2 linked regions of the Homo sapiens genome follow. The protein of the gene in region 1 purifies or fractionates together with the protein of each later gene. This does not show direct contact. Each region holds a gene or a part of one and is shown in the gene's direction. Other genes may lie near its edges.

Region 1 (3,469 bases):
TGGTGAAACCCCACCTCTGCTAAAAATACAAAAAATTAGCCAGATGTGGTGGCACGTGCCTGTAATCCCAGCTACTTAGGAGGCTGAAGCAGGAGAATCGCTTGAGCCCAGGAGGCAGAGGTTGCAGTGAGCCGAGATCGTGCCACTGCACTCCAGCCTGGGAGACAGAGTGAGACTCTGTCTCAAGAAAAAAAAAAAAAAAAAAAAAAAAAAAAAGCGGATAGGTCAACATAACTGCGTGTTTACATGGTTTAATTTAAAAACAGAATCTCAGGAAGCTGCTCCTAATGTTGGTGGTTTGAAACCCCCCTCCCCCCATTTTAAGTGATTTTATATGCAAAGCCTTCTTGTCTTGCCCAAATTCAAGAAGTTGTCTTTGTTTCTAGGATGTGAAATCAGGAAATATATGTTTGTTGAAATGTATAAAGTAGTGGTGAATTTCAGCTCAACTGATTTGCCAGTATACAGAGAAAAACACCTGTTCTTTGAGATACACAGTGCCTGTTGGGAATCTGCAAAAATTGTTTGTTGGTAGTCACTAAACTCTTGTTACCCTGAATTTTATTCTCTTTCGCTTCCCCCACTACTAGCCTAATAAATATTTCAGAATAATAACAAAGTTTAAAGAAAGAATACTTAGCCTGTTCTTCTGAAGTAGTCTTTGTTTTTCTTCTCTGTTTACTAACCTCCTTTTGAGGATAAAATCTTATTTCCTTTCTTTATCCTGTAGTTTCCTTTGTACACTCATAGCCTTTCTTCAGATGCAGATTTTGCAGTCAGATAAAAGTCTCTACTTTAAGCACCAATTAAATCAGGAAAAGATGATGGGCCTGGAGTTATTGTCTTCAAGTTCCTGATTTTGAGGAAACTCTGATTATGTCAGTAGTGCAGTTATCTGATAGTAAGGTTACACTGTCCAAATAAGGTGACTTTGGAAGAAAATAACATAAAGCCATCTCATGATCTGGCAGCCTTTCGCTGTTTCGCTTTCTGCAGAGCGGCATTCCTTCTGCATGTCTCTGTCAGTCTCTGTGAGAGTGGGGTTTCTATCCACACAGCACTGCGGTGCAGCTTCTCCGTGTTGGCAGAATCTTCCATGCTCTGCTGGTTCGTTGTCTTTCCAGCTGTGCTGTGCAGTGCAATGTGCTGGCTGCTGAGCTCATGAGACACGGCCCGTCTCAACTGAGAAGTGCTGTGCGTATAAAACACACACCAAGTAGAGAAGACTTGATAGGAAAAAAGTGTAAGGCTGGGTGCGGTGGCTCATGCCTATAATCCTAGCACTTTGGGAGGCTGAGGTAGGAGGATTGTTTGCTTCCAGTTTGAAATGAGCCGGGGCAACATAGCAAGATCCCCTCTGAGAAAAAAAAGTGTAAAACATCTCATTAATTTTTATATCAGGTTGGGCGTGGTGGCTCAAGCTTGTAATCCCAGCACTTTGGGAGGCTGAGGCGGGTGGATCACCTGAGGTCAGGAGTTCGAGACCAGCCTGACCAACGTGGAGAAACCCCATCTCTACTAAAAATACAAAACTCAGCTGGGTGTGGTGGCGCATGCCTATAATCCCAGCTACTCGGGAGGCTGAGGCAGAATTGCTTGAACCTGGGAGGCGGAGGTTGCAGTGAGCCAAGATCGCGTCATTGCACTCCAGCCTGGGCAACAAGAGCAAAACTCCGTCTCAAAAAATACATACATACATACATACATACATACATTTTTATATCAGTTACATGTTGAAATTATAATATTTTGGGAATTGCATAAAATAAAATGTATTAATTTCATCTGTTTTTAATGTGGCTACTAGAAAATTCAAAGTAACATGTATGGCATGCCTTCTATTTCTTTTGGCCAATGCTGCTGTTTCTGAGAGATTGCAGGTTCATTGAGGGGGAATTTGCATGGTTTGTTTGTTTTTTGTCTGTATAGTGGTTTTGCCACCATTTCCAGGGAATTAGGTTGTGATTACATTTCTCTAGTGATACATGAATGACTGAGATCTTGTAATTTGTTTTGTTTTGCTAGTGATGATGGCCAAAGAGAAGCCACCGATAACTGTAGTTGGAGATGTTGGAGGCCGCATCGCAATCATCGTGGTATGGTTATATGTCATCCATGTGCAGAGGTGGCACTCCTGGCTCTTGGTCAGTAGGTTGTCCACTCTGGGACTGTATTTCTAGGAACGATGATCCGAATGGATCCATGTATCCTTTCTCACCCAAACTCCCTTGTGCCAAGTGGCAGAAACCTGTATCCAGGTGAACATACATTAAAGTATAACCTACAGATAGGAAATGAGCACAGTACTCCCGTGAGAAAATTCAGCACCTTCACCTTCATCATGTGGATTCTAGGTTCTTTAAACCAGCTCACCTAATCATGCTTGAGCGTTAGGGCCGAAAGATGAACTGAAGATGAGCTGTTCCGTTTTCACAAGTAAGAATGGGTGTCCCCGTGCAGACTCGTTCTGCATGTTGACATACTTTTTTTCCCAGCTCTAAATATCTGCTGGCTAGTGGGTCATGAGTCCTTTGCAGTAGCACACTTTATTTCAGTTTTCTTCTCATGTCACAGTCTATTTGAAAAAAAAATAAATGGAACGCTGGCTATGTGGGATTCACCAGAAACGTGAGACAGGAAAATGAGTGTTGGCAATCCTCAGCTCCAGCCGTAATGTCACAGGTGCTTGACTGCGCCCGCCTCTGACAGACACACAAGGTACTGTCAGGTGCTTCTGTTGCCATTTCTGGATGCTCGTTCTTTGACCCAGGCACACAGCTCTGATTTTCCATCAGAAATCCTCTGAAACTGAGTGCAGAAGAGAGTAGAGTGGTGTGTGCATTGACAGTATGGGCTAGAGGGTGTTTCTTTCCTACCAACTCACTCTGTTCTCCTCCCAGGATGACATTATTGACGATGTGGAGAGTTTTGTTGCTGCCGCGGAGATCCTGAAAGAGAGAGGCGCCTATAAGATCTATGTTATGGCCACCCACGGCATCCTGTCTGCAGAGGCCCCTCGCCTGATTGAGGAGTCCTCCGTAGACGAGGTCAGGCTGCTTCTAAATCTTGAGCCAAGATTTACTGCTGTGTTTTCTGGGAATAATAAAATGATTCAGTCAATACTAAATTGCTTAATCTGTCTATAGCTTTTCTAGCTTTTGCTGGCTAGCAGTTCGTTGGGACAGATACATGTTTAGGAATACAGATAGTCCACGACTTACCATGGTTCAACTTAGAAGTTTTTGACTTTATGATGATGCAAAACCATTGCAATTACGATGTAATGTATAGTATTCGATAAATTACTTGAGACACTTTATTTTAAAATAATCGCTTTTATTATAAAATGAAAGCCTTTGCCCTAGATGATTTTGCCACCTGCAGTCTAATGTAACTGTTCTGGGCATGTTTAAGGTAGGGCTAGGCCAAGTTAATGATGTTTAGTAGGTTAGGCGTATTAAATGCTTTT
Region 2 (3,500 bases), on another chromosome or scaffold:
TCCTGTGGACTGTGGCGGGATTTGAGGTGAGCGAGCAAGCATGGGAGCCATTGGTTTCTTCTTTGCAGGCCTACAATGGGCACCATCAAGCCTTGGAAGTCCTTCTGCAGTCGTTGGTGGACCTGGACATCAGGGATGAGAAAGGCCGCACTGCTCTGGATCTGGCTGCCTTTAAAGGACACACAGAATGTGTGGAAGCGCTTATCAATCAGGGCGCATCCATCTTTGTGAAAGACAATGTAACCAAAAGAACCCCACTTCATGCCTCAGGTAGGTCTTGTCAAGGGCCTGATTACCCTAGTTTTGTGGCTTGTTCGTAAGTTTTAATAGAAGGAAAGCAGCATCTTCTTTCATCCCAGTTTTTTAAATATCAATTTTCTTTCCACATCAGATGCACTTCCACACTTCCAAAATGCTTTTGGCCTGCTATCCTCTTGGAGGTGATTGGTGTTCTCTGGCCAGGTGCTCTGGCCTTGTTAACTCAAAAGAGAGTTCAGAACTTTTGGCTAAAAGCTACCACAAAACATTCTGAACAAAGGGCAAGGTGTAATGCAATCTTCAGAACAAGTTACATAGAACAAAATACATCAAAATCAAACAGTATTTGAAAGCATAAAACCAATAGCAGGTTTTATGGCTATTTCATATTCATATTAATGTATTCAGGGCTATTTCGCATAAGGAATCATAAGGCAGCAATCAGTACATCATTCTGCCAGCCTAAATGATGTTTCTTAGCTTTTTTACACATCGATGTAAAAATCAAGACGCTTTAAAAGTACATGTATATATCAAAAAGAAAGTCATTTGCCTTTTCTGGGATTTTTCTTCCATGCCCATGAAAACCTGTGTCAAGACACTTCTAGATATATACACAGACATAAGGGTAATATGGAAGAGTCTCTAGCTCAGCTAAGGCATAGATATCTTTGGCTCAGGAAATCCAGTGATATCAGCCTTTGATTAGGGTAGTAGATAACATTTTGTAACGATAAATAACTGTCTTACTTGGTGAAATGGGTGTATTGAGGAAGCAAATAAGTGAAGATACTTTTTCAAAAGACTTTATGATTCTTGTTACTTGGGAAAATTTTCCCAGAATGATAGACCTTGTAAAAAACTATTTCCATCTATGTCCCTGAATTTCCAAGCCACTGAAGAAAAACAATACAGAGGTTGAAAAAACCTAATTGTTGCCTACTTACTTGGAAATGATTGTTGCTGGAAAAAAAAAAAACGTTAGCCATAAGGTTAGTAATAGTTGGTGTGGTTGAATTATAAATTCTCATTTCTCATCACATTTAGTCTTTTTTCTCCCCAGCCATTCTTGTTATTATTATAAAATTCAAATTTTGTCCTCCTTTTTAAAAGATTAGTTGCTATTTTTAAGAGAAGCATCCTATTTTTGTTATTATATAATTCCTGACAATTACAAAGGGCCTACTTTGATTGTGGAAAATCGCCCTTATAAACAGGTAAACAATGAAGAACAATCATTTTCACTCATTTGCCAGTGTGATATGGGTTGTGGTCCAGTGAAGCCCCCTAGTGGTCAAGAAGACTCAGTCAGCTTGGATTTTCCTCCTGTCATTCACTAAAAAGACACTGTCACTGGACTGTTCACAAAATGTCTACTGTGCAGAAGCTTTAGCGTGTGCTTTGAGGATCTGCTTACCCAAAATCTTTTTCAACTTTTTTGAGAGGCCAATATTTTGAGTTTCAAATCCTCAGAGCACTATGAGGAGCAAGAGCCAGGACGAGTATGAGAGGTTTTGGCACAGATAGTTGGAGTGACAGTTTGTAGTCTTTGAGTCGTGTGAAAAATGGTTGTCACTCATAGGAAGAGGCTGAGCTGGTCTGAGACAAAGCTGAACTTGGCAGCAGAGCTAAAGATGTTAGCATCTTTTTGCTAGAAGGCAATTTGGGGAAAAAGAAATGTAGTGTGTAGGAAGCCAAAGAGAATTTAAGTTTGGCTACCAACTTCAGGGGAACTTAGATTTACCTGAGGGGCTGGGCGCAGTGGTTCATGCCTGTAATCCCAGCACTTTGGAAGGCCGAGGAGGGCAGATCACCTGAGGTCAGGAGTTCGAGACCAGCCTGGCCAACAAGGTGAAACCCCATCTCTTCTAAAAATACAAAACTTAGCTGGGCATGGTAGTGTGCATCTGTAGTCCCAGCTACTCGGGAGGCTGAAGCAGGAGAATCGCTTGAACCCAGGAGGCAGAGGTTGCAGTGAGCCGAGTTCACGCCACTGCACTCCAGCCTGGGCAACAGAGCTAGACTCTACCTCAAAAAAAAAAAAAAATACCTGAGGGCTATTAGCTAAGTTCAAAAAGCTACTGTACCAAAAAACAAAACAAAACAAAACAAAAGCACAACTGTAGAAACTGTTTTGCTATCTAACACATTGGGTGAGTTATATGAAGTTAGATAATTTTTTTCTTCTTATGTTTAGCCAAATATCAAATGTCACTTGAACTATTATGATTATGACTATTTAGAGTATTAAGTTGCTACAGAAAGAGGAACCAGTCAAAATATGCTGTTTTTCCATGTTCATGAACCTGCCATCTGCAGTATTCAGCTGTCAGTCCTTTGCCAGTCATTTCCTTTTAGCCATACATTAAACTTCTTGCCTACTTCACCAATGGTAGCAGATTTAGTGTAATTGTAAGAACAAAAAACATAACAGCAGCAGCAACGACATATTACCTGTACTCCAATCCACAGAATTTCCTCCCGAGATACATAAATGGAATGTTGCTGAGAATTAGCTGAATGCAATGGTCTACAAAATGTGCACATTATTCCTGTAGTTCATTTGAGTGCTGTTGATGAATGCAAGCTAATTCCAGTATGTATGTATTGTCCCTGAAAAAATGTGTCATTGTTAAATTAGCATTCTCTCGTGGCTGGCAAGCAAATAAAAGGTCTGTAAAATGCAGCTCTTAGGAGAGCCTTTATCAACCTCACATAGCGGCGTCTATTCCCTTCTCTCTCCACATCCATAATGTGGCAAATACAATGTACTTTGTGGCCTTCTCATTGTTAGAGAGGAGAGAAGGTCACATTTGGAATTTTAACCACGGTTGCTCTCATCTTACTCCCTGAGTGGGAAGTCATGCCTATCATAAGGCTTTGGTTTGCGTTCAATAGCCTGGCAGAAAGCAGCTTACCCTGAGGTTATCATCACAGGTTTGCTTCCCAGCCCCTGTGGGACCACTACAGCCTTCTAAAGCTGCCTGGAATTGGTGTGCACAGGAGTGCATCCAGTGCTCCCGCCCCAGCCGGTCCAGGCCTGCCCCGCATGGGGGCCGCATTTCCTGCCCACATTGGCCCCCACTCGGTCCGCTGGGCGAGGAGGGGCAGGGGGAGGCCCAGTCTGGCCTAGGAAAGGGCTCCCAGGGAGCCCAGTCACACCTCGGCCAGGCACGAGGATGCCTGGGAAGTCAGAGAAAGCGCCGCCTGTGGCTCGGTGACCGTGGGGCTGAGGGACCGTC

The links. The genes of interacting proteins can lie anywhere in the genome.
Region 2: the proteins of PRPSAP1 (region 1) and ANKRD44 purify together in Homo sapiens (affinity purification with mass spectrometry; one large-scale study listed by BioGRID and IntAct). This does not show direct contact.

Annotation. Positions count from the first base shown.
Region 1 is NC_000017.11:76,312,448-76,315,916, reverse strand, and holds part of PRPSAP1 (phosphoribosyl pyrophosphate synthase-associated protein 1), read left to right. Parts: intron 1-2,025; coding exon 2,026-2,096; intron 2,097-2,900; coding exon 2,901-3,047; intron 3,048-3,469. UniProt on the Homo sapiens protein: Seems to play a negative regulatory role in 5-phosphoribose 1-diphosphate synthesis.
Region 2 is NC_000002.12:197,010,281-197,013,780, reverse strand, and holds part of ANKRD44 (serine/threonine-protein phosphatase 6 regulatory ankyrin repeat subunit B), read left to right. Parts: intron 1-68; coding exon 69-270; intron 271-3,500. UniProt on the Homo sapiens protein: Putative regulatory subunit of protein phosphatase 6 (PP6) that may be involved in the recognition of phosphoprotein substrates.